4 separate regions of the Homo sapiens genome follow, and regions 2, 3 and 4 are each linked to region 1. The links come from fine-mapping of genetic effects on gene expression. A gene starts in region 1. Each other region holds a variant in brackets. All regions are shown on one strand. Distances are between the middles of the regions.

Region 1 (4,000 bases):
ATGTAATCCATGGATATGGGGAGACACTGGATGCCTGAATTAAATCCTAAGGGACTTAGAGAAAGTGGATCAGGAACTTTGGTTCCAAAGATCAACTCCATGTTCCCGCACATGGCCTAACCGTAACACTGTAAAGAATTTCCAGTCTTCCCCTTGCACTCCTATCAACACTGAGATGTATTTGAGAAAAAAAAAAAAAGAGAGAGAGAGAGAAGATCTCAGGCTGTATTGTGTTTGCTAATGGTTAATTACGTAATTAATCTATAAGACTACTTTTTTTTCTTTTTTTCTTTTTTCTTTTTTTTTTTTAAAGGGCAGAGACAGATATTCTTCTGGGAGAAGATGGCTCAAATGAGAGAGACTTGAAGCCATGTCACATGAAGAAGAGTCAGAATAATTGAGGATGGTTAATCCTCAAAAGAGAGTGTTTAGGTAAAATTTGAGGGCTGACTTCAAAGATCTGAAAGACTACTTCATGGAGGAAAGATGTGAAGACCCGGGACCAAAGGTTACAGGGGAGTGGATTTGCATAATTGCTGTGCAAGGAGGGAACAATTATGACAGCTAATGTTTACTGAGTGCTCACCACGCATGCACTAAAGTTAAGGTCTTTATATGCCTTAGCTACAAGGTTGTAGATCAAATTCATACTTATCACTACAAGTGTCTCAGAGCATCGTTAGTAAAGGCTCCATTTACTGACTACTTATTAAATTACTTCATTTAATAGTTGGTGCTATTGACTTTTGTTATTATATCATTACTGTTTTATAGATGAGGAAATACAGAAGTTAAGTTGCTTTCCTGCAGTCACCCTGCTTTAGTTACTGGCTTATAACCATCTGGACCCAGGCACTCTTGATACTAATACTGCCTCCCAGAGTCATGCGTATAATAAGGAGTTAGATCAGAGCTGTTCATTAAAAGTATAAGGTGAGCCACTAATGAGAGCCTATGTGTAGCCTTACATTTTCTAGTAGCTACATCAGAAAATGTAAAAAGAAACTGGTGAAATTAATCTTATATATGCTTATATCTTAACCCAACACATGACGAATCCAACTGACTTACTACATCAGACTATTCTCATGTATTGCAATAATGTAATCAACATAAACATACTTAACAAGTTAGTTTACATTCATTTTAAAAATACTGAATTGTATGTCTGTTTTACACTTACAGAACATCTCAGGGATAGCCACATTTCAAGTGCTCAACAGCTGCCTGTGGCTCTTGAGGGGGAAGATCTTAAAAGGGAGCTTAGTTTTCCACCTTGATTCTGATGCCTCCCTGCCCCCGACTTATTTCCTTTGCCAATTAGAAGAAAATGCCGAACTGCCTTTGACTTTTCCGGTAGAGCCAATGTAGGTATTTCTGAACTGGGGGAGGACAGGTGGTTCGCCTGCAACCCTCTTCCCTCCTGCCAGCTAGGCTGGGAGTTAACGTTTTTGATTTCTGCTTTGAAAATGATTTAAGTAGGTTGCATGAATTAAGTAATTTATTCTAAATATCAAATTATGGGTGGAACGTCTTGCCTTATGCAAAGTTATGCAAAATTAGGAAGTCCCTGGCTTAATTGGTTAGAAATACATCTTGTAGTTTCAATTGCAGGGTTAGTAAATACATAGATGTCGACGGAGAGGGAGGAAACTTTTTTTTTTTTTTTTTGCCACTCTGTCCAAGGGTAGAGGCACAGCGTCAAAACAAACACGTCTTAAAGTAGCGTTCAAACAGCCCACCGAAGTTTCCCCTTAATATCCGGAACCGGTTGCCAAAAATTAAAAAAGGATGTGAAAAGATGCTACTCGCTTTTGGCCTCCCGGAGATGGCGCTATGAGGGTGACGGAGTTAATTAGTGCCTCCAAACGCCGTGTGTGAGCTCATCGAAGTCATGCTCTGCACACATATTATTTATAGCAGATCTGAGGCATGCATGGTGTTTGACATTTCTGTCTTTTAAGTAGGGGGACTTCAAAAAGTCGTGGGCATCCCCCTAGGCAAAGTGCAGTGGGCAGGGACCAGGCAGGGTGCGGGCGCAAGGCGAACGCGCAGACCACGAGTGTCCTGGCGCAGGTGCCGGGGGCGGCGGCTGCAACTCCGCAGCGTCCGCTCGGGAGGAGAGTTCGCGGCTGATCTCCGGATGCCTTGCAGATGCAAAATGTGTCTCTGGCCAGCAGGAGGAAGGAAGAGGAAGTGAGAGCAGCGGCAGCCGGCGGTGCAGCAGCCGGCCGACCCAGAGTGTAAGTGCGTGTGCTGGGGCGAGCGGGAGCGGGCGAGGATGGGCACAGGATAGAGGCAGAGCCACCCACGCCGCCGCGGCCCCACGCTGGGCGACAGAGCCTCCAGTTCCCCTTCAATGGTGGCGGGTCGCCGGAGCTCTGATCGCCGGGAACCCTTGCCGCTGCTGTCCTGCGACCCCAAGCAGGTTCGTAAAGTTTCCTGGGCTGGCGCCGCGCCCCGACTCGCTGACCTCGGCGCGGCAGGGGAGGGGGCCGGGACTGGGGCCGGGAGGAGGCGTCCTGCTCCGGGGGACTCCGGGCGCCGCGGAGACACTTTTGTTTCCTCCCTGGGGGCGCCGCGGCTCGGGCGGGGGTGGCCGCCGCGCTCGGCAGGGTGAGGGCTGCGGGCGCGTCGGGGCGCTCTGCAGTTGGGGAAGTCTGAGCTCCGGGGATGGCGGGAGTGGGAGTGGGAGCGGAGGGAGGGGGCGCTGGAGGTGCGGCGCCCGCGGATGAAGCGCAGGGCCCGGGGCCCGGGAGCCCGCCGAGACATTTCGACCAGGGTCTGCGGGAGGGGGGGCGCGGGAGGGTTGCGACGCTGGCGCGGGGTTACTGGGGACGGGGGATGTGGGGCTGGGATCTTGGAGTCAAGATTCCTATAGAGCTAGAGAAGCGGCTGCGGCTCAGACTCGGCGTCTTCTCCTGCACTCGGGGATGGGAGGGAATCCCCCGGCGAGCGCGCTCGTGGGAGGGGGCGGTGATGGGCCAGAGGAATGGGGGCCAGGAGGGCCGGAGAGGGCGGTCTGGGCAGCCGGGAGCCCCTGAGGTTCTGGTTAGTAAATACTCTCCTCCCGGGGACACACCGGGGTCTCCGCCGAGACCGAGAGAGGCGGCGGGGAGCTTTGTGGAGCTTCGTGGAAATCTCGGCTTCGGAGAGGGGACGCACCGGGCGCGCCTTCAGAGAAGGGGGCGGCGGCATGCCAGGGGGCCCGGGAATCGGAGCGGAGAGTGGCGACTGCGATCGCCGGAGTCGCTTTGAGGAAGAGGAAATACAGAACTCAGCTGTCCCGGGGGTGCGCGCGTGTGTTTGGGGTTGGGAAGTCGGTGCTGTGCCGCGAGCGCGCGCGAGGCGGCGTGTGTGTGTGTGTGTGTGTGTGTGTGTGTGTGTGGTGTGTGCGCGCGCGCGTATGTATGTGTGTGTGGTGTGTCGTCGGTGTGTGTGTGAGTGTGTGTGTGTGGGGGGGGTGTTGTGGGTGTGTGTGTGAGTCGGTGTGTGTGTGTGTGACCGCACAGCCAGGAACTCCCCGCCCAGTGACCCTCTCCCGCCTAGGGGGCCATTTGAAGTTGGAGGCGGGTCGGGACCTGCCTTGACCTAAAGGACCAGCCTCAGGCTTGGTCCCAGGTAGTGACCCAGCTCTGAGAGTCCCTGGACGGCTCCCGAGACTCAGTGAATATATTTGGGATGCCCCCCGCGCTGGATCATGGGCTTCCCAACACCGCTGGCCTTGAATGATTCGGGCCTAATTCGTTATGGTTAAGATTTCAGATAATCTAAGACGGGTTGAGGCCTCCAGAAGCGGAGGCTTCCTGTTGGGCGCTGCCAGTGACTTGGGGATGAAGCTATGGAAGAATATCTGAGTGTTTCTCTTTTGCTTCTATAAAAGTAATTAATGACCTGTATTTACACACCAAAACCCTGCGAGCAACTTTGGGACATAGAGGGATATAATCCTTCTCAGAATCACTTTGAGATTGCAAAAACCGGCAGCAGCTATTATTGG
Region 2 (7,752 bases), 90 kb after region 1:
GAGGAAAGAGTTCAGTTTTTGATATGTTAAATTTGAGATGCTTGTGAGATACCTAAGTAGCTATGTCAAGTAGGCAGTTGGCTATTTGAGGGAGGGAGGGAAGAAGGAAGGAAGGAATGAAGGAAGGTTGGTTGGCTTGGGTTCAGGATATACATTTAAAATGTATCTATGGGATTGGATGAGACTACCTAGAGGCGATGCCTGGAGAAAGACAAGGACTCAGAAATGAGCCCTGTATTAGTTAGTCTAGGCTAAACTCTGTCGTGGGTCCAAGCAATCTTAAAAGTGCTAGTGGCTTATCACAGGCTTACCCATGCCAGATGTCCACTGGGGGACAGTGGGTGGCCCTGTCATATTATAACTGTACCATCTGAGCAGAAACTTTGTGTTTTGTGTTCAATGTCTTGTGCTCAATACCTAGAAGCATACCTGGTGGGAGGTAGTACCTGGTAATACCTGGCACAAGGATGTAACGGAGAAATTATATATATATATATATCATATACATTTCTATTGAGGTACAATAAAATCAATTTTCATTTAGTGATACTGACCAATGTATGTAGTCATGTAACCATCACAACACAGTCAAGAAACAGACCATTTTACAGCTTTATTTTATTTTTTATTTTCTTCATGCTACCTCGTATAAGAGAAATAGACCAGTTTCATCACCCTGAAAAGTTCCCTTGTGCCCCCTTGCAGACTCTGCTTCCACCTCACCCCTGGTAACCCCTGATAGGCTTTCTTTTTGTGTGTGTGACTGGGTCTCTGTCTCCCAGGCTGGAGTGTGGTGGTGCAACCTCTGCTCACTGCAACCTCCACCTCCTGGGCTCAAGAGATCCTTCCACCTCAGCCTCCCAAGTAGGTGGGACTTACAGGTGCGTGCTACCACGCCTGGTTAATTTTTTTGTCTTTTTTATAGAAACAGGGTTTCCCTGTGTTGCCCAGGCTGGTCTCGAACTCCTGAGCTCAAGCCATCCGCCGGCCTTGGCCTCCCAAAGTGCTGGGATTACGGGCTTGAGCCACTGTGCCCGGATGACATGCTATCAATGTAATTTTGCCTTTTCTAGAATTTTCTAGAAATGGAATCATATAGTATGTTGTCTTTTATAACTGACTTCTTTTATTTAGCGTAGAGATTGGTATACATTTTCTGTAAAGACTCAGATGGTAAATATTTTAGGCTTACAGGCGGGATGGTCTTTGTAGGATCTACCTACTCAGCTCTGCTGTTGGTAGTATGAAATGTGTACTGAATGGGTGTAGCTTTGTTCCAATAAAACTTTGACTACAAAAATAGGGAGAGGGCCGGATTTGGCCCATAAGCTAGAGTGTGCCAATATCTGATGCAGCATAATTCACTCCGGATTTACTTCTATTGTTACATGTATCAGCAGTTTATTCTTTTTTATTGCTGAGTAGTCTTCCATTGTATGGATGACGTTTTGTTTATTCATCGATTGATGGACATTTGAGTTGTTTTGAGCTTTTGGCTTTTATGAATAAAGTTGTTATGAACATTCATACACCTATCTTTGTTTTCATTTCTCTTAGGTAAATCCCTAAGAGTAGAATTGCTGTGTCATATGATAAATATGTACTTAATATTTTTAAAAATGTACCAAACTGTTTTTCAAAGTCTTACTATTTATCAGCAATGTGTGAGAATTCTAGTTGTTCTAAGTTTTTATCATCATAATGAGTGTGTACTGAAGTAAATACTTATTAATATTCAAATGTCAATGGATGTAAATGAATCATTGAAAATGTTGTGAATATTGTCCAGTGTCACTCATATTTTAATGTGAATTTTTTACATGACTCTTATTCTCATAGTTTTGCCATATATTATTAAACTATTTTCTATTCTTTAATCTTAAGGTTTTTATAAAATTTTCCTGAGAACAATGTAGACACCACCTTTGTAGATGGCAGTTAATTCAGTGTTAGACTTACTGATAAGGGGGCAGAGCGCAATTTCTCTTTACACTTTGCAGTTACTGAAAACCACACAGGCCTTACTACTCAGTTGGGCTGAGTATTGGGTTGAAATCTTTGAAATGTGAGAAGCCTAATTTAATCTCACCTCTGAATAGGCAGCCACTTTAGCTCTTCCTGGGTATACCGAGGACTACCCACAGGCAGATTCTGGATTTTTCTCTAAAAAGTTATGCATCTGTTGGACCCCTAGAGTTTTGTCTTTTAAGTGTGTGGCTGAGCTAATTTTTACCTGGAAAAACTTTATGTAGATGTTTGAAATGTCGACCTTGGTGTTTTTTTTTTTTTTTAAAATTTCAGTTAAGTTTCATAAACTTTCATTTTAAGCCGTGTTACTTCCCAGTGAACTCTCTTGCACCTAAGTGAATTGATTTGCTATTTAGGTTCTTTGCCATAATAAGCTCATTAAATGCTGGGGCCTGTTACCAAAAAGTGATTCTTTCAGTTTTGAGTACTTGTTCTGAGGCTGTACTCTGACAGAGCAAGATGTCAATTAAGATTATTCCTTGTTAGTGGAAATAAAATCACCTTATCTGCTTATAAAAGAATCTCTCTGTTCTTTCTCTAAGGGGAGGGAGAGTATATTCAACTCACACAAAGTTTATCCATTCATGAAGTGAAAAGGTAAAAGCTTAGAGGTCATGAAAAGATCCCCGTTTTACCAGAACGGAAATTATGATCCGAGCCAGGGGTATTTTTCCGCAGAGCTGACTCTCAGAGGTAGTATCAAGTTGCAGCTTCTATCACAGCATCAAAAATGGAGTCTCTGTGGAGCTTGAAAATCTCAGGCCATAACTGATTCCTGTCCACAGACTCAAAGTCAGAAGCAAGTTCACCGTGTCGCAGTCAGTATTACACAAGTACAAAGTGAAAAGGTGTGACCGTGATCAATAATGGAAAAGTGCATAAAGCCTTTTTCTTCCCTGTGAACCAGCCTGGATTTGGCTTTCAGAGTCAGGGATAATGTGCCACGCTCTTACTCGGTGCCGGGCACTGTTCTAAGCCTTGTGCATATTAAGGTCCAAGGAAGTTTAGGGTAATGGTTCAGAACACTGCCTTCGGATGGGCTAGATTGCTGACTAGCCAAATAAGTGACCAGTTTCCTCAGTGACTCCATCTACCCATGTTTAGGGTGGGGATTATGATAGCGCCTTTGTCACGGGGCTGTTGTGAGGACTGAATGTGTTAATCTATGTACACTCTTTAATAGGGTACCTGGCACAGGGTAAGTTATATAGGTGTGTTGGCTATTACTGTCATTTTAGTACTCATCCTAAGAAATTGTTGACATAGGTACTGTGGTTTGCTCCATTTTACAGATGAGTAAACTGAGGCACAGAGAGGAATTTTCCCAAAGCCACAAGGCTAGGAGGTAGTGAAACTAGGATTAGAATACAGACAGTCAGAGTCCAATCAGTGGTTGTTAACTGCTGTATTCTGCTGCCTTCCTGCTTATTAGGAGAAAATGGCTGTGCATTTTTAGATGTAATCTGCAGTAAAGCAGATAGTCCTGCAAGGAAGGAGTAGGAAGGCTGTATTTGGCACTGACGGCTTGGACTTTACCACTGGTTCCTCCAGATGAGTCTCTACACCCATTGCCTTGATACAGGTCAACAAATTGGCAGAGAGTCCATCTTCTATTTGGAGTAGTCCTATCTCAGTAAATGACATCACCACCTATTCTGTTATAGAAGCCATAATCCTGGTTCGTCAATGACTCCAGCTTCTCCCTGTTTGTCTATTATCAATTGTTTTGATTTTTTAAATAGCTTATAAATCCATCACCTTTTCTGTCTCCACGA[C/T]CACTCCAGCCCAAGTCACTGCCATCAGTCACTTTCTTACCAACCTACCCCGTCATCCTTGCCCCATGCCAGTCTGTTCTTCATGTAGGCAAAGGTAAAATGCAAATCTGGTCAGCTTGTGCCCGGGCTTAACACATTACCTGCTTTTACATTCCAGTCCAGGTCTGTCTGCCTCCAAAGCCTGTTCTCTTTTTTTTCCCCATATTTCCTCTATAAAGTTTGTAGGAGTTTCAAATCAAGGCCGAGAAAAGTAAGATTTGAAAGGCTGAGAAAAGTAAGATTTTTTAGGTGTCCAGTGGAATCTGGTTTTCTTTGACCTTTCTCATCAAATTCACACCTCAGATAACTAGGCCCCAGAATCTGTACCCATTACCAGACCTGTCAGCAGAACTCAAGTGTTCCAGATGGGTTTATAATATCTGGTATTTTTCTGGGCAATAAGATGCAAGATGGCCTTCTCTAATTTTTTTCACAATTGCCTTCATCAGTCTAGCTAGGGATTTGTGTGTCTGTATTTGTGTACTTGTTTTTATTGTCATTAGTTTGGTTTTGGCACAATAGAGTCCTTGTCAAAGTGGATATTATTAGCAGGTTGAGTTTCAAGTTTGCTAGAACTGAATGCAGATACAAAGCATTTGAAATTATCAGTATACTGTTAATGGAGGCTAGAGGAGAAATCAAAGTAAATTTTCAGAAGTATGAAATTAGCAAACTGCCAACACAGGGTTGGAAGTTTCTCTATTTTCCTCTTACCAGCTTTTAATCTGGTAATTTCCCAGGGAGTACAGACAGGCTGTGGGGAAGCTCTCTGCCCATGCTAACTTGAGGGGAAAATGAGCATTAAAAAAACAATTCATTCAGAATGCCCTGGGATACCAGTGAGCAGATCAGCAACCCTAGGATGTAATCAATAATATTGGCTTTCAGAATAGAACCACAGACCACTTTCCCCCCAAATATGCACCACAGACTGCCATTCAGCACCTCAGATCTTATTTATCTATGCATTTGAGCAGGAACAAGTCTTTTTGTTCTTAAGCATGGCCCACTGGCTCCACTGTCATCTTGATGTTTGTGTGAAAAGCTCTCACAGTATGGCCGTATGGCCATGCTGATAGCATGTACCCTGACTGTGTTTTATCTTAAACCAAACTGCAGCAAACATGTGAGGCAGCTCAGATAAAAACTAGAAGGAAGAGATTTTATCATAAAATCCAGGGAGTTTTGGCAGAGCCTCCTAAAGTGAAAGAGATGAGAAGGAAAAAATCTATAGGTTTGTTTGTCTTACTAGTGAGGGTAGGTTTGTGGCTAATAACTAGAGAGATAAAATATCTACAGCACTGAAAATGGGGGAAATTTGTTTTTTAACTGCATCTTTCCTGAGAAACATTCTGAGGTTCTGCTGTTTAGAGCCATGATAAGACAACCCTAGGAATGAAGCTGAGTAATCATTATGTCTTAGTCTCCACTAAAACCACAGCTTCTGGGGGGCAGCTGGGCTGAGGTCTCGCCAGCAAAGCTCATTAGGCCCCAGGTGGATTATGCCTACTATAGCAGGGAAGGGTGTGATACCTGTGTTCAACCATCATATGGGCCACTGTTGACACTCCTGAAACCAAAGACAGGTTAGCAAGCGAAAAGCATAACACATTTATTTAATATAAGTTTTATATAACATGGGAGCCTTTAGAAACGAAGACCAAAAGCCCCAGAAATGAAGACCCAAAGCCCCAGAAACAAAGACCCAAAGCCCCATAACTATTCTTATGTTTAGGCTTGATAAAGAATGGACAGCCATATAGAACTATGATTGGACAAAGGGTGTGACCTAATGGCAGTATGACTGAGGAGGAACCTCAGCAAGGGCTGTTGGTTCAGATTCTTATTGGTCTGTCTGTGTAGCATGTCTTCCTCCTGGATATAGGGCAGGACTCCTCTGGAAAGAGGGTCTTTGGGGAGAAGGAAGAAGGAAGAGAGTGACCTTCCTAGGTTTCATGGTTTACTTTGGTGGAGATAGGTTCTAGTTTCTATGACCCACTTTGTGGAAGAGGATTTTTTTATTTATTTATTATGCTTTTATTAAGAAATGCTTAAAGGATTTTGTGAATTTGTCTTCCTATCCATTGATCATTTTTCTTTTCTTTTTTTTTTTTAATTATACTTTAAGTTCTGGGATACATGTGCAGAATGTGCAGGTTTGTTACACAGGTATACACATGCCATGGTGGTTTGCTGCTCCCATCAACCTGTCATCTATATTAGGTATTTCTCGTAATTCCATCCCTCCCCTATCACACGGGCCCCGGTGTGTGATGTTCCCCTCCCTGTGTCCATGTGTTCTCATTGTTCAACTCCCACTTATGAGTGAGAACATGGGGTGTTTGGTTTTCTGTTCCTGTGTTAGTTTGCTGAGAATAATGGTTTCCAGCTTCATCCATGTCCCTGTAAAGGACATGAACTCATTCTTTGGAGAAATAGGAATGCTTTTACACTGTTGGTGGGAGTGTAAATTAGTTCAACCACTGTGGAAGACAGTATGGTGATTCGTCAAGGATCTGGAGCCAGAAATATCATTTGACCCAGCGATCCCATTACTGAGTATATACCCAAAGGACTATAAATCAATCTACTATAAAGACACATGCACGTGTATGTTTATTGTAGCACTGTTCACAATAACAAAGACTTGGTACCAACCCAAATGCCCATCAATGATAGACTAGATAAAGAAAATGTGGCACATAGACACCATGGAATTTTGTTTTTTATGAGTTGCTTCAGTGGGGAAAGAGAGATGGGAGAAAGGAGAGCAGTAGAGGTCAGAGAGACCTTGGTTCTGAGACCTTCCAGTCTTCTTTAGTTCAGAGTACTCAGCATGCCAAAGCTCCATACTTTGGGGTATTGATTGTTTTCTAAGCCCTAACACTACCCTCTGTCTAGTTGCTGGGAGGATCAGACAGAAAAGGACAGATGTCACTCTGCAAGGCTGGAAGAACATACAGTTGGTGAAGATGTGCAGTAATAGTGGGGCAGATCCCCCTCTGTGCAGAAGCTCCCCTGTGAGCCTTCTTAAAGCACTCAGCCACCTCATAACTCAAGATGACATCCATTTCTCCTTGCGGAGAAAGGATTTAGAACAAGTTGAGTCCTGGTCACCTTTGTGTTCTCAGAGAACTTTCCTGGAGGACTAGACCTGTGGTCAGGAGGGAAAATGGTTCTCTTATTTTCCATCAGGGCATCTGCTCAGGCAATTCTCTGTGACTTCCTGCCTTTGCAAATGTAGGTCAATCCTTCCAGAATCTTACCCTAACTTTCCCCCCTCCGATTTCTGTCAACACAATCGTTCACCTAGAATCTTTTCTATGCCCTCAAAACTTCAAATCTAAAAACTCCCTGAACTTAAAGCAAAGTTATTATTTCCTTTCTAGTGCCATAGCTCTTTGTCCAATTCGGTTATGATGCTTACAGCAAAAGGAATTCTCATGCAGTGTGGCTTCTGTGTGTTTCATGAGACTGGACTACAGATGTGTTTCCTCAGTTTCATTTATCCAGCTACCCCATGTCTGGCAAATGATAATCCCAGGTCAGGCACTACTCTAATTGCTTTATAGATATTTTATCTTCATAATAATCCCATGAGAAAGGTACCTCTGTCATTCCAGTTTCACAGATGAGGATACTGAGGGTCACATGTTGTGTAATTTGTCCAGAGTCACAGCGTTTTCAATGTGGGTGAACCAGGATTAACACCCAGGCCAACAACTGACCCCAGAGCCCTCATAAAAGTCTGTGCTCCTCTGGGAATAAGGACGTCAGGCCGGGAGAAAGAGCCTAATGGTATTCCGTGAGAGGCGGCTATGCGGCATTGCATTATGCATCAGAATGACTAATTCTGTGTACGAGGGTTGTCAGGTGAAACCCAGTGGAGGCACAGCCCAGAGTTCTGCAG
Region 3 (7,752 bases), 460 kb after region 1:
CAGATTTTCAAAGATGCCATGTTGCCTCCTAGCACACATGTGTTTTGTTTGGGTCACTCTTCCCCTCACTCTCAATTTATTAACTTTTACTCTTCCTTTAGATCATGGCTTGATGTCACTTTCTCTGAAATGCTTTTCCTGATCTCACTAAGTGATTATTTGTGCTAAGAGAACACAGAGTTCATAGCTCTGTTTTTATACTCCATATCACAGTTATGCTTAATATTTTTGCCTCCTCTATTAGAGTCTGCAGGTTGTAAGGCAGAAACCTTGTCAGTTTGTTGTATCACTAGCACAAGTGCCTGGCATAGATACTTGCTAAATATTTGTTGAGAAAATTATTAAATTTTGATTGAGGAAGACTTGGATGGAATGATGGTTTTGGCATAAACTGAGGATTTGGACAGCCTTCAAGAGGATGGGAAGGCAAAGGGTGGGTGTCCCCATGGCAGAGGAGACTAGGCAGGACAGTTAAGAGGAGATGTTCCAGAAAGATGGTAGAGAAAACCTGAGCCATCCACCACCCTGAGGGTGAATGTTGTCTGGGCAGAGCTGAGAAAGATTGACAGTGTTGGCTTTGGGTGCTGTACCTGGGTGAGACTTTCTTCCTACACTTAGTGGCATAAAGAGACAAAATGGAAAGCCAGGATTCATATTCTTGAAGGTACAAATCCAACATCAAGACCAATGGGCGGCCAGGCGTCGTGGCTCCCGCCTGTAATCCCAGCACTTTGGGAGGCCAAGGTGGATGGATCACCTGAGGTCAGGAGTTTGAGACCAGCCTGTCCAACATGGTGAAACCCCATCTTTAATAAATATACAAAAATTAGCCAGGCATGATGGCACATGCCTGTAATCTCAGCTACTCAGGAGGCTGAGGCAGGAGAATCGCTTGAACCTGGGAGGAAGAGGTTGCAGTGAGCCGAGATCACACCATTGCACTCCAGCAAGACTGTCAAAACAAAACAAAACACCAGTGGGCTATAGCTGAGCATTTGGAGTTGGATGGATATGGGGTTTATACTGAGCTTCATTTAGGAAGAAAGGAGGCTGAGGGCGACTGTTGCTGTTTAGACAGTGGATGTGTTGTAGATGGATAGTTCAGCTTGGCTTCAAGAATCAGAAACACACAAAGAGCAGGTCCCAGTCTCCTCAGAAGCCTCATCTGGGTCATTACGGGCTGAGGGTCCCAGGCTTGCAGAGACCTTTAAGGAAGAGAAGGTTCTCCTTGAGGTTGTTATGATGCCAAGGCAGATGACGATAGGGCAGAGAGTAATTCTTTTCTCTCTAACATAAGCCCAAATCGGTGCCTTCTGTGACACTTACCATTTTCCATCAATCTCTGTGGAACTGAGGGCTTCCGCAGACCCCTGAGTGAGATTGCCACCTTATGAGCCCCCTCGAGTCTGACCAGGATGTGCAGCCATTCACTGCTCAGTGGCGACCCCTGCTGCTAAGGAGAGAGATGGCAGCACATTCAGAGTTGGTGACATTAATTCTAGTCATGCAACCCGGGGAATTTGGAGCAAGCAGGGGAGGAGTCTGAGGGGATGAAAATGGGCTGAGGAAATCCAGGGAGATCCCTAGTGTTCAGGGCGCCTTGATGAGGTGCTAATGCAGAAAAGAGCTGGGCCTGAACACTCCGTACTTACAAAATCTTCCACAAGCCGCCAGTGTAATCGCTTCATTCCAAAGGTTGGCTAGGAACCACCGCAGTGCCCTCTGAGGAATACCATTGCAAACTTTAACTTTTATTTGCGGAGCTCTCAGGGCTGTTAGGCAACAAATATTTTTAAAGATACCCCTCTAATTCTCTAGGTTAAAAGTTGCAGTAATTTTAATTAGGGGTAGAGGCTGTTTATGTTTGTTTACATCCTGGGTAGGAATTAGAGTATAAATCCTCCCAGTGGGACCCCTGCTGGGATGCTCTGGAATGCTTGCATTCCTGAGTATGTGAGCACCCCTGGTGTGCATGCCTTGTGTGTACATGGCAAGGTATCGCGAGGTGGTTCTATGACATTTCTGGACAAAAACTGTGTGTGAAGAGAAGGTAGGAGAAAGCAAACTCACAATCAAATAAAAGTAGAGAGAGGGGAAGAGATGAGATTGCAGTTGATTATGGGTCTGGCAGCAGATGTTCTGCACGAATCCAACTCGCTGCAGCCAGTCTGTTTCTATGGCAACAGAATCGGTAATTATTGAGCCCAGGCACTCCCCCACTTCTCCCAACAAGGTGGAGGCTGATGAATATGAACTATCTCCAGCCCATCACCAGCTTTTTCTTTTTCTTCTTGTCCTTATTTGTTTTTTAGTTCTTTATAAGAAAAAGTGGGGGATATATTGAGAAGTACCAAGACGGGGAGCTATGGGTTTATTGACAAAAGAGCATAGGACACTAAAATAGAAACGAAGTTATTATTTTTCTCTTGTGATACTCTAAGAGAAAAGCTCTTCCTGGAAAAGCCGATGATCTCTGAAGATGCTAAATAAATGAGCAGGAGTTTCCCTGAAATGGAGGCGCCCTTTGATTGGCTGATCTTTCCCCGACTCCTGCCAATCGGAGCATCCCTGGGCTCCAGCTCCATAAACATAAGCAAAGCTACATGCTTATTCTTCTGGACTTGGAGTGTATACCATTTAAAGGTGTGCGGCGGGTCTCTGTTCACATGGCTCAACTGGAAACCTGTTTCATGAACAAGCTTACTCAGGAACCATCTGGTGGTATTCCAGCACATTGTTCTTCAGGGGGACGACTCTAAGTCGCTTTGTGGTGGCAGCAGCTTAGAATCAGTATTTGTGGTTGGGAAAGATGGACTTACGGGAGCTTGGTGAGTAAACCTCCGTCTCACACATGTGTCCACCGGTATTATCAGCCTGAGCTAAATGTAGCTTTGTCCTATTGTCTGCCGAGAAAACTGAATTGGAACAAGCACATGGAGGAGCGGGCATTCAAGGGTTCCCATGATGTAGGAGACTCTGAATTCAAAAGACTGCATGCTTTGCTTGGGTCTGATCCGATTTGTAGCTGACTGTACATTATACTTGGACATTGGTTGTCTTGTTAGGATTAGTGTAAGGAGCAGAGTTCTGCTTTATTTCCCTGGGTGTTGATGCATTTCAAGAGAAAATGCTTTTAAAGCTACATTAATAATAAGAGTCAACCCTGTGTATTGCTAGGAAGAGAGAAAAAGGTGCAGGCACGGAGCCCGGAGCCGCTTGATTGTGTTGCTGGTGTTTGCATTGTGAAGAGAGATGTTATTACAATGGTCTGTCAAACACTTCTTCAGACCCCCAGCCACGGAATGAAGCATCTCTTCTCCGTGTGCCACTGTTCTCTGCTTGGAAAATGTGTAACTGAGCTAGGTCATGTCCTTTCCTTTTATGAAACCTGTCTCCAAATTGAAATATGTTTTTTAATTAATTGCAAAGATAAAGTGAAGTGCAATTGGAAAGATTTTAGCAGTCAAAAAGCATGCTTCAAAATGACTCTATTTTGCATCCTTTCAAACCCCTGAAAAACCAGAGAGGGTTTGCAAAGTTATATTCAAGGATTGGCTCTCTGCCAGGAAAGGGATGCTCTGAGCTATTGCTCTGCTCCCTGGGGTTTAATTTTCTGACACTGGTGATGAAATTTTCAATTTCGTTGGGTAGAAACAGGAAGAACAAGAAAGCAGTACTATAAACAGGCAATGGAGGGGCAGCGTGGGGAACGAGAAACTCTTTGCCTGTAGGGACCCTTCTAGCTGCAAACTTAAAAATGTATGTGGCAAGATGCAACCCAAGCACCGAGCAGGATT[C/T]CAGACGAGTTATAATCATTCTGAACGGGGAGAGGAAAGGTAATGCCATTGGCTTGGGTTGCAGAGAGTGGGGGCTGAAGTTGGGGCTTCTATCTCTGCCTAAGATCTTTTCCCCTGATTGTCTCCTGATTTTGAGGATTCATCATGTTACTTTTTTTAAAATGTGATTTCCTGTCTTATGTGCCTGAAAGTGTCATAGCACACTTGATGTCTTCTATTTACAGTCCACTTGACTTCAAATAATGGAGAGAGGAAAAGAGAATGAAGCATCTGGTTTATGAAGAAATGCACATGAAATAGTCAAACAAGAGAAATCTTATTGGTTGTCCTTTTTAAAAAATGTCCTTTTGCACAGGAGAATGCTGTGGGTCTTCACGTGGCTCTAGAATAGAATTTACTTTATCCTAAATGGGACCTGTGATGAATGGTTACAGAAACAGAAGAGCTAGAAAGCTTTCGCCTATAGAAGACTCAAGGCAGGGTGAGGGCGACTGGGTGTCTGGGAGAGACCTTCTACTCTGTCTATTAAAGAAGTAGGGCTGACGTTGCAGGAGAGGGAGAATTTCCTAACTGCGGGTGACAATGCATCAGGGACACCTGGTCACTTGACAAGGTCAGTGACCTGTTTGTTAGCTGAATGCCTTTCTGGAGATGTAGGCTGCTCTCTGATCCCATGAGGCTCCAGATGGCTGGATACATTGAGAATTCTGCCTGACTGGAAGAGCTTGTGTGCATGTTAACTCTGCCTGCTGCACCACACTCCTCAGTACACCTCGATGCTCGATTTTGAGGAAGTCTGGTTTCTAGAGGATGTGCATTAAGTGACAGTCAGCTCGTTAGAGTCAATGTCCATTTCGCCTTGGCCTCTTCTCTCCCCCACTAGTGTCACTTTACATGAGCGAAGTGCTGGCACCTGTTGGTAAGAATGAGAGAAGAAACCAGCTTTTTATGGAAGCAGTAAAAAATGTTTACAAAAAAAAAAAAAAAATCTAAAACAGTAGTTCTTAAGCTATTATTGGATCATGGAACTCTTTAAGAATGTGAAAGCTATGAACCTCCTCTCTGCTCCCCCCACCTAAAAACGCATTCATGCACAAACACATAACACTTTGATAATCAGGCATTTTAGGGTAAAGCAAGATCCCTGTCCTGGGGGAATAGCCAAGAACGTATCATACCCTGAAGTTCATTGTCTCCTTCTTTTCAGATGGGTCCGCTAAATGCTGCAGCCCCATCTCAATCTGTCCTGAGCATTTACTGTGTGCCAGGCACTGCTCAATACATTTTATATGTAGATATAATAATTCATTGAATCTTCCAGCAGCCCTAATGGGACTAAGTTTTTTTGCCTGTTTTAGATGAGGAAATTTAGTCGCCAAAATATTAAGGACCTTGCCGGTGTTTATCCAGCTAGGAACTGACAAGTGTTTGGTGTTTCATGCATGTCGATGTACTTGTTGCTGCATTCATATGTGGAAGGAGAGTGAGTATATAGGGGAAGATGGTTTCATCAGCCTGTCAGTCTGTCAAGTGGAGTCAGACCACAGGTAGTTGAATTAAACAATCACCACAATAATTAAAGTCAAATTGAAAAGGCATTTTGGGGTGGTTGGGTGAATTATTAATAACGCCATTTGGGAAGTTTGAGCTAAGTAAAAAGCCCATCACAAAATGCCCCATTGGTTGCCCCTTTATGTTACTGTGTGATGCACCATCTCATTCCTGTAGCATTTATTTGCCTGGTATGATTTGGGTCAATTTACCTAGGAGACCAGTTCCTTCTGGGCCATCTGGGAGAGGTGACAGGTCACCAGTGTCCCATGGCTGCCCTTTGCTTACATTTGCCAGGAATGATTTGCAGTGGCCAAAGCAATGGCGAGGGTGATGAACAACTAGGAACAACCAGGCAGCCAGTTTGGGGGTTCCCATGAACTGCAATGGCTGTAGGAATCACCAGGACTACCATGCTTTCTCAAGACCTTGTGAGCAGGGGAGGCGGGCCCAGCTCAGAAATAGAAACTGTGTTCGTCAGAGTTTGAGGGAGGATTGATGGCTGCTAGGGCAATGTGGAGCTGGATGGGTGTGTGAATCCTCCACTCCTGGTTCAGCCACTGCATCTCCCCTTCTATCTGTTTTATAAATGGATTCACAATGAAGATGTAACAATAAAAAAGAGAAAGAAGGGGTTAGGCTGCTAGAAGGAAGAATAAAAGCTATTCATCTTATCTAGATGTCTTATCTGACATAAAAAAATAAGCAAGATTGCAATGCTAAGTGGAAAGGAATCTGTAGGGGTCATGGTAACAGGTTTTTAAACATGGGTTCTTGGCTATGCTTGCCTAGTATTATGCACTTTCTAGTATTATACGAGGTATGTAAATGTGTAGAAGACATTTTAACAAGACTACAAAAAATGTACTACAGGGACAATATAGCAGATCTCATTTTACATTGATGCTGTCCAATGGAAATATGATGCAAGTTAAGTATGTGATTTTAATTTTTCTAGTAGTTCACCTGAAAAAAGTAAAAAGAAACAGGCCAGTTAATTTTAATGATATGTATTATTTTACCTGCTATGTCTAAGTTATTATTTCAACATGTATCTACAAAACTATTAACAAAATATTTACATTGAATTTTTCATGTTAAGTCTTTGAAATATGACATGTGTTTTACATTTACAACACAACTCAATTTGGATACTGGATTTTCACAGGAAATCTGTATTTAGATCTCATAAAATTCATAGTTAAAAAAGTAGATTCATGTGCACAAGTTGTTCCAAACATACATCAAAGTTTTCCAATAAATAACTGAATTGAGTATTGGTTTTTAAATTTAAATGAGCTAAAATTAAATAAAATTTACAATTCAGCTGCACAGTCACACTCACCACACTCACTCACCAAGGCTTCCCTAGCCACCGTGTTTAGTGGCTACTCTACTGGATGGTGTGGCACTAGGATCTCAGAACATTCCTTGCACACTAGGCCAGTAACTTCTCTCACTCCATCATCATACCACAGCACCTTTATCTCTTTTACCTCCACAAGGTACCTGGACCACCTGCTCTGGTAACAGAGAAACAGAATGTTAGTATTCACAAACATGTTAACTTTTACTTTCACCGTTGCTCATGGTGAACTCAAGATGGACAGCTAAATCTTAGTTTCTCCATTACACTGTTTGGCAAGGGGGAATTAAAACAGTATGCTGTTTCCTCTTGCAGAAAGTCGGCACTCATCCATCTGTGGCATTTCTTTCTTCATCCTTACTTATCTTGGCCCTGCTATTTACTGTGCTCTCTGGCCCCTCTCTCAACTCAGTATGGAACGTGGGTTTAATTTTAATTATAAACAAACCATAACTGAGAAGGTAACTCTGTTACAAGCAGATAATTCTTCATGAAGACAAGTATAAATTCAGGCTAAGGAGTGATTTAATTGCTATCATCTTATTCAATTCTACAAATTTTGTTTAGCGAGAAAATATTGACTAAATAGTTCTTTCAGTTAATTTGGTCTTCAAATCCGTGCCTTCAATACCAGATATTATCCTATATCTTCACTCCCCAAAAGATTTATTTTAATGTAAAACTCACCATGAAAAAGTAATCAGTCTCTTCAATAACTAGATCAAAACCATCCTGCAAAGCCTTCCTAGAGGCATCTAGTCTTAGTCTCCTAATGATGTCCCCAGTTGATGATTTCACCCAAATCAAACGGGTGAAATGAGTGAGCTTTGGAAAAGTTTAAGAGGACTGAGCTTAGAGTGAGCTTTGGCCTCCATTTGCCAAAGCTCACTCTAAGCTCAGTCCTCTTAAACTTTCCCTTAGCTCTATTAAGAATTCTGCAAAACAGTAAGAAAAAAAAAATCCATGTGATTAAATACCATCTTTCCTATCAGGAATGCCTTCTGACCCAGTGGTCCCCATTTCCTGCATTTTGGACAG
Region 4 (7,752 bases), 45 kb after region 1:
ATTTCTTTAGTATGGGGAACACAAGGTTACAAATATAGTGTGGATATAAAATCCAATGCTACTGTATATGTTTATTGTGGTATTCAATGTTCTTTACCAATGTAAAATTCACTTACAGACTTGACACAATTTTTTGAAGTTACTATTTTTAAAATTAATAAATATTTTAAAAATTAATCAATTTTTTTCTAAGAGAAATTTTAGGTTTACAGAAAAATTGGGCACAAAGTACAGTTTCCATATCCTCTCTTTCCCCAGCAGGGCTTCCCTCTTATTAACATTTGTTACAAGCAATGAGCCAATATTGATACATTATTATTCATTGAAGTTCATAGTTTGCCTTAGGGTTTACTTTTTGTTTTTTACAGTTCTATGAGATTGAACGAATGCATAATGCCGTTTATCCACCATTATTCTGTCATACAAAAGAATTTTACTGTCCTAAAAATCCCCTGCAGTCCACAAATGCATCCCTCTCTCACTGCATATTGCTGGCAACTACCGATGTTTTTATTGTCTCTATAGTTTTGCCTTTTCCAGAATGACATATAGTTGGAATCAGTCTGTGGCCTTTTTAGGCTGGCTTCCTTCACTTAGAAATAGCACTTAAGATTCATCCATGTTCTTTTTTTTTTTTTTTTGAGATGGAGTTTCACTCTTTCGCCCAGGCTGGAATGCAGTGGTGCAGTCTCAGCTCACTGCAACCTCCGCCTTCTGGTTTCAAGTGATTCTCCTGCCTCAGCCTCCTGTGTAGCTGGGATTACAGGCACCCACCATCACGCCTGGCTAATTTTTGTATTTTTAGTAGAGACGGGGTTTCAGCATGTTGGACGGGCTGGTCTTGAACTCCTGACCTCGTGATCTGCCCACCTCGGCCTCCCAAAGTGCTAGGATTACAGACGTGAGCCACCGCGCCAGACCCTCATCCATGTTCTTTCATGGCATGATAGTTCATTTCTTTTTATCTCCCAATACTGTGTCATTGTGTGGATGTACCATTGTTTATTCACTCACCTGTTGAAGGACATCTTAGTTGCTTCTGAGTTTTGTCAAGTATATGTTAGGCTACTGTAAACATGCGTGCAGATTTTGTATAGCTGTAAGTTTTTTCAACGCTATTATAAATTACCAAAGTGTTCTCCACACAGGCTATATTAATTTACCCTCCAATTCAGCAGTGTATGTGATTCTGTTTACTACAAATTCTTACTGACAGTTAATACTGATGAATTCTTTCATCTTTGCCTATCTGAAGAGTGAATGTGGGTATCTATCTTACTGTTATATTAATTTATATTTCCTGATTATTAGTGAGTCATACCATTTTAATCTTGGAAGGACCTTTGAGATCCTCTAGCTAATGCTATATTTTAAAGATGCAAAAAACAAGACTAAGAATATTTTCTTGGCCTGGTGCGATGGCTCCCGCCTGTAATCCCAGCACTTTGGGAGGCCGAGGCGGGCAGATCACAAGGTCAGGAGTTCGAGACCATCCTGCCTAACACGGTGAAACCCCTCCCCCGTCTCTACTAAAAAAAAAAATACAAAAAAATTATCCGGGCGTGATGGTAGCTGCCTGTAGTCCCAGCTGCTTGGGAGGCTGAGACAGGACAATGGTGTGAACCCGGGAGGCGGAGCTTGCAGTGAGCCGAGATCGCGCCACTGCACTCTAGCCTGGGTGACAGAGCAAGACTCTGTCTCATAAAAAAAAAAAATTTTCTTACTTCCTCACTTTCATTTTTCTTTCCTAAGAATATGTTTTTAGTTTCATTGCATTATGCCCCTCATTGTTGTGGCTACTGAGTTCAGTGTCTCATCCAATGGAAATCTTTCATATTTGCCATGAGGGTGGAATATATACAAAGAGAGAAAAAAAAAAAACAAAAGAGTAATATTGCAGATTTCTCCCTTGCACCAACTGCAGATTTTTCACTTGTACCATCTTTATTTTCACTAACAAGAAGCTTCTGTTTCCCAAACTAATTATACACAGGGCCTGAACCAGCGTGAGTACTCAAGCATTCCCATGAATGATGGAATGAACCCTAAGATGCAAGGAGTGGGAGATGAGGTCTGCTTAACGGCTTGAAAATACCCCTAGATCCCAGTGGTATCTCAGCTCTGCAGCTTGAGCTTGACTTCTGATTCTGCCTGTAGCTGCGGTGGACTGGGAATTACTGATAAGGGAAGCAAGTGTTGACATTTTCCATATTAGGATGGGTTCTCCAGTGAATTCTGACCCATGCTCTCGTGGTCAGCTCTCTTGAGGCCAACTTTCCAGAGGCTAGCTGTTGGGACCAGCGGAGTTGACCTCTGGGGCGGGACAGCATATGCACTGTCCTCTGAGGCTAGCAAGTTCAAGACACTCTGGTTTCCCCTGGAAAGCCTTTGGAGTATCGGAGGAGGATTGGCTGGGCTGATTCAGCCAGTCTGTATTTTAACTGCCAGGGAATGAATAAGCCTATCTTTCTGACTCCCTCCTTCCCATTAACAAGCCCGACGCCTTGAGTCCCAGGAAGCATGCCACACATGACTTCAGTGTCCCGTGCACACAGAAGTTTAATTGCTTTGTGATTGCCTAAAATGTGAAATGAAGGAACACATTGCCTATAAGGATAACATTTGCGATTCTGTGCATTTCATTTCATCACACATATTTGTGTCAGTTAAAGCACACGGAAGTGTGTTTGCTGTACTTAAAAGACCTATCTGGATTTTGTGTTTCTCCGTGATTTGGAAGAATAACTGCAGATAAGCAAGCTCTGGGTGTGACAGACAGACATGGGGGCAGAGGTGAGACAAGGTGGAGTCTGGGGCGTGGGGAGGGGGTCGGAAACATTGGGCATTCCAGGAGGAGGGAACAATATGTGCAAGGGCTGGGACCTGCAATAAAGCCTGACCTTTTTGGAGGAATTCTTAGGGTTTTTTTTCCCCATTGTTGTTGTTTTGGTCTTGAAGTATAAAAAGCATCCATGCCTTATTCTTGGGAAAGATTCATTCAGATAAAATCCCATTGTCACTCAAAGTTATGCTTTCTCACACGACCATTTCAGTCCCCCAGTGCCGGTGGCCCACATTACCACTGCTTCATTGGTCTGGCCACAGTGACTTCTCTCCTGGAAATGATTGCTCAGCAAACGCCTTATTCTGGCAAATTTCAGAGCCCATAGTTACAATGAGGACTCCTGATCATGAGCTGTTTGCATTTTATTCAGAAAAAAATTAAAAATGGGGGGAACAAAGAGGGGAAAGGATGTGAGCCAAGCAATAGCTGAATGTTTTTTAAAAACTGGATATTTTGTTTTTCATCAAGTAACGATTACCCAGTTGCGACCACAATCTATTTAGAACTAAAAATTTAAGCCAGCCTTCCAAGCCCCAAAGAAAACTATGGAAAAAAAGATCCAGGAAACTTTTGGTACTGGGGTGTAGTATCTCCTTTTTATGCTAAGTTTGCAAACCTTGCTACATTGCCACAAAGAGGAGGAACATCTCAACACTGATTGGCATCTGGGCCTCGCAGATGGGGTGTGTTTCTTTAAACAGTGTCTTGGTTATAGGAGAACCTTTATTGGAACAACCTGAAGGGCCCAGGGAATTTATTATATACCAGGTTGTTACTTCC[G/A]TTAACATGGAGAAGCATCTAAAGGATACATTGTTTGTCAGATATGTCAATATCAAAGGTTAAAAATAGCGTGGGACCTAGGGATGCACCAGAAAGCTGTGCCAATGGCGGGGAGTGGCCATGATAGGACCAAATGAGAAAGAGCATAAGATACCCATAGAAATCATGGCGCACAGTCACCTGTATGAGACAGCATGCAGTGTGCATGGGAGAGGCCTGCCACACGGAGTGAAGGTGGAAGGGGGAGCCACCTAGACATTCAGAGATGGGTCTTGGTGGTATGGGAGAGGGAGTGGACCAGTGAGGATGGAAAGTGCTGGCCCAAACCTTCCCATGCATACCTTAAAATGAATTTCTTTCTGGACTGATTAGAGAGAAAAAATGATTACAATTTTAGGGATTCTGTTTCCCACCCCTCATTTTCTCTTGCTTTTTTTCCCCATTAATATATTTTATTTTTTAGAAGTATTAGATTTACTGAAAAATTGACTAGATAGCACAGTGAGTTCCAATATATGCCTGCTATCCACACAGTTTTCCCTATTATCAGCATCTTGCATTAGTGTGGTACATTTGTTATAATTAAACTAGTATCCATTATTATGAATGAACAACAACAGTTCATTAAGATTCACTTTTTGTGTCGTATGTTCTATGGGTTTTGACAATTGCATAATGGGCTGGGCATGGTGGCTCATGCCCGTAATCCCAGCACTTTGGGAGGCTGAGGTGAGAGGATCACTTGAGGCCCGGAGTTCGAGACCAGCCTGGGAAACATAGTGAGACCCCCATCTCTACAAAGAATAAAAAAAATAGTTGGGTGTGGTGATGTGTGCCTGTAGTCCGAGCTACTCTGGAGGTTGAGGTGTGAGGATTGCTTGAGGCCAGGAGGTCAAGGCTGCAGTGAGCTGTGATCATGTCACTGCACTCCAGCCTGGGTGACAGAGTGAGACCCCTGTCTTAAAGATAAATAAATAAATGAGAAAGACAGTTGCACCGTGTCATGTAGCTACTGTTACAATATCATACAGAATAATTTCACTGCCTTAAAAATCCACGATGCTTCACCTATGCACCCCCCTACCGTCCTCCTGGCCTCCAAACCCCTGGAAACCAGTGATTTTTTTTCAGAGTTGGGGGGATTTCACTGTGTTGCCCAGGCTGGTCTCAAACCTTGGCTTCCAGTGATCCTCCTACCTCACCCTCTCAAAGTGTTGGGATTACAGGTGTGAGCCACTGTGCCAGGCAAACCACTGAACTGTTGACTGTCTTTATAGTTTTGCCTTTTCTAGAATGTTATATAATTGGAATCATACAGGTATTTAGGCTTTTCAGACTGGCTTCCTTCACTTAGAAATGTGCATTTAAAACTTATCCATGTCTTTTTGTGGCCTAATAGCTCATTTTAAAAATTGCTGAGTAATATTCTATTGTGTATCTATACTACAGTTTATTCATTCGTCTATGGAAGGACATCACGGTTGCTTGCAGGTTTTGGTAAATAGGAAGAAGAATGCTCTAAACATTTGAGTGCAGGTTTTTGTATGGACATACATTTTCAACTTGTTTGGGTAAATACCTAGAAGCATTATTGCCAGATTGTATGACAAGATTACGTTTAACTCTGTAAGAAGGTACCAAACTATCTTCAAAGGTGGTTACATCATTCCCCCTTGCTTTTTTATTTTCCATGTGACTGTAGTTTGGGAACAGAAATTAAAGATAATATGTGGAAAAATGCAGGTACTACTTTTAAGGTGTAATACCCTGATTCTGAAATATCCAGAGAAGTGTGTTCTACTGGGTGAGATACAGACTAACAGTGTCCTTTAGTATAAGGATATTAATTGTTTACTTAACCAGAAGTCAGGGATCAGATGGCTTCAGATTCATTAAATAGCTCAAGACTGTCCTCAAGGATCCAGACTCTCTCTCCCTCTACTCTTCCATAAGTATGTTGGCTTTCTGTCTTCTGCTCATACTTCATGGTCTTAAGATGGCGGCTGTAGCACCAGGCATCAAGTTCCCAAACACTTAGGAAGAAAGAGGAAGGGGAAACACCAAGAGCTATCCTTCCATTTTGTTCCTTTTTTCAGAAAAGTGAACACCCCTTTACCCCACGAAAAACCCAGCAGATTTTCTCTGATGTTTTACTGACCCCAAATGGGTTCTGTCGTCACTCTAGCTGCATAGAGGCCAGGAAACAGTAATTTAGAGTCTCTCTAATTTCTGCTCATGGTTTCTTCCTGTAACGATATTCTCACTCACAACCTGGCCTCATCCATTTATCAAGCAGAATATTGCTGGAGCCACTTGTAACTTTTTGTTGCTGTAGGGGAGGGGAAATAGCTTCTTCCCACTCATCAACAGGTTCATGACTGAGGCCCCTATAACAAAAGACAGATTGACAATAGAAAAGGATACACATGTATTTGATGTAAGTTTTACGTGCCACAGGAGTCTTCATAGGGAACGAAAGACCTGAAGAAGCGGGTAAACCTGTGTATTTTTATGCTTAGGTTTGGTGAAGAGTAGACAGTCTTAGAGATGTATGATTGGACAAAGGAGCTATCTGTGATCTAATTGTAATGAACTGTGAGAAATTTAGCAAGGCCTGTTTGATCAGGTTCTTCTTCTCACTTCTATGTCTTCAACTCCTTTCCTTTGGGTATAGGGAAGGAGTCTCTCTCATATGGCTTGACTGTGTGCCCACCCAAATCTCATCTTGAATTGTAGTTCCTATAATCCCCACATGTCATGCGAGGGACCTACTAGGAGGTAATTGAATCATGGTGGCAGTTACCCTCATGCTGTTCTCGTGATAGTGAGTGTATTCTCACAAGATCTGATGGTTTTTTAAGGGATTCTCCCCTGCTTTTGCCTGAATTCTTCTCCTTCATGCCGCCTTGTGAAGAAGGATGTGTTTGCTTCCCCTTCTGCCATGATTATAAGTTTCCTGAGGCCTCCTTAGCCATGCTGAACTGTAAGTCAATTAAACTTGTTTCCTTTATAAATTACCCAGTCTTGGGTATGTCGTTATAGCAGTGTGAGAACAGACTAATACACTGTCTCCTGAGGCTCTTACAAAGTGCTTCAAAGAAAAGTCAGAAAATCCTTCCTCGATTTTATGATCTGCTTTAGGAGAAAAGGGGTGAGGGGAAGGTAAGAGTGACCTTCCTGCTTCTGCTGTTTTCTCAAATGCCAAGGTGCCATGTTTTGGGGTGGTAGGTCCTGAACCCATCCCTTCAATGTCCTTATTTTATCTGTGCATGAGGGCTGAATTATTCCATCACTTTCAAACTGTGTTTTATGGAGCCCCATATTTCTGACATGAGTGTAGGCATCTCTGCAGGGAGAGTGAATGGGATTTGAGAGGGCAGGGCTCTGGCTTCCCACTTCTTCCTGGACAAGCTTACCTTCACTTACTTAAGCTTCCTCCCAGTGTAGGGTTCCTAGGGGTTTTCCTTTGAATTAAACTTCTGCAGATAAAATTAAGGGTGAAAGCATTCAGTCAGGCGGATGTCTCTTTCAATTCTAAGAGTCAAACTTTTGGACCAAGATGAGACAAGGCTATTAGTCTTGTCCTAAGTCCTTTGCAAAATCCCTAGGATTTTTTGCCTTGAAAACTGTACCAAATACCCATATTGTGCACAGGTTGGAAGAAAATTGTTTTTTCTTCTGTCCTAAAGAAAAAGGAATTTCTTTGCCATTTAAAAAGCAGTTTAAATCCTAGCTCTTCCTTGTCAAGTTGATGGTCTGGAGCGGGGAGATAAGAAGATGGCCATCAGTCTAAGTGTTATTCCTAAAAAGTAGAAGTTTTGATCTTTCCTGGTATCTCTAAATGGAATTTATCAAATATTCTGGAGTAACTGAAAGGGGTGATCTGTATTCTCTTCCACCGTTTCCTAAAGCTCTCACATGTTTATGTGAAATTTGTGGACTTTTCAGATGGGCATTTAATATACGATATAGTATTAATTTGGGTTGGAAAATGTTCTGGGCTTTTAAAGTATATCTTAGTTAAAATGCTTTGTAATTTGCATATATGCCCTGAAGTAATTTTATGGAATAGAAAAATACATGAAAACAAAAACAGAAACTAGGTCTGTGCTGAATTTGCTGTTGGG

Direction of the effects. Alleles are on the strand shown, and positions count from the first base shown. SD is a standard deviation of normalised expression in the study named. Not every link is listed here.
For the expression in liver of the gene that starts at base 2,239 in region 1, allele G in region 4 goes with a higher level than allele A (small effect, 0.27 SD a copy in GTEx).

What was found. PIP is the estimated chance that this variant, and not a neighbour inherited with it, causes the effect. A credible set is the group of variants that fine-mapping cannot tell apart.
Region 2: its variant is the best candidate, but not a certain one, in a credible set for the expression of ELMO1 in aorta (GTEx, PIP 0.57).
Region 3: its variant is the best candidate, but not a certain one, in a credible set for the expression of ELMO1 in whole blood (TOPMed, PIP 0.52).
Region 4: its variant is the best candidate, but not a certain one, in a credible set for the expression of ELMO1 in liver (GTEx, PIP 0.68).

The regions. Positions count from the first base shown.
Region 1 is chr7:37,447,103-37,451,102 of GRCh38, reverse strand. ELMO1 (engulfment and cell motility 1) reads left to right here and starts at 2,239. Exons shown (of 22, transcript NM_014800.11): 1 at 2,239-2,428. RefSeq lists silencers at 2,490-2,539, 2,550-2,599.
Region 2 is chr7:37,354,965-37,362,716 of GRCh38, reverse strand. The region is part of intron 1 of ELMO1 (engulfment and cell motility 1); the gene reads left to right. Among named protein-coding and RNA genes, the nearest start is that of ELMO1, 90 kb to the left of the region's middle. RefSeq lists enhancers at 7,730-7,752, 7,143-7,752. The variant C/T (reference allele first, on the strand shown) is at 3,804.
Region 3 is chr7:36,980,999-36,988,750 of GRCh38, reverse strand. All of the region lies in intron 16 of ELMO1 (engulfment and cell motility 1), which reads left to right. Among named protein-coding and RNA genes, the nearest start is that of ELMO1-AS1, 13 kb to the left of the region's middle. RefSeq lists a silencer at 1,813-2,107. The variant C/T (reference allele first, on the strand shown) is at 3,798.
Region 4 is chr7:37,400,397-37,408,148 of GRCh38, reverse strand. The region is part of intron 1 of ELMO1 (engulfment and cell motility 1); the gene reads left to right. Among named protein-coding and RNA genes, the nearest start is that of ELMO1, 45 kb to the left of the region's middle. The variant G/A (reference allele first, on the strand shown) is at 3,626.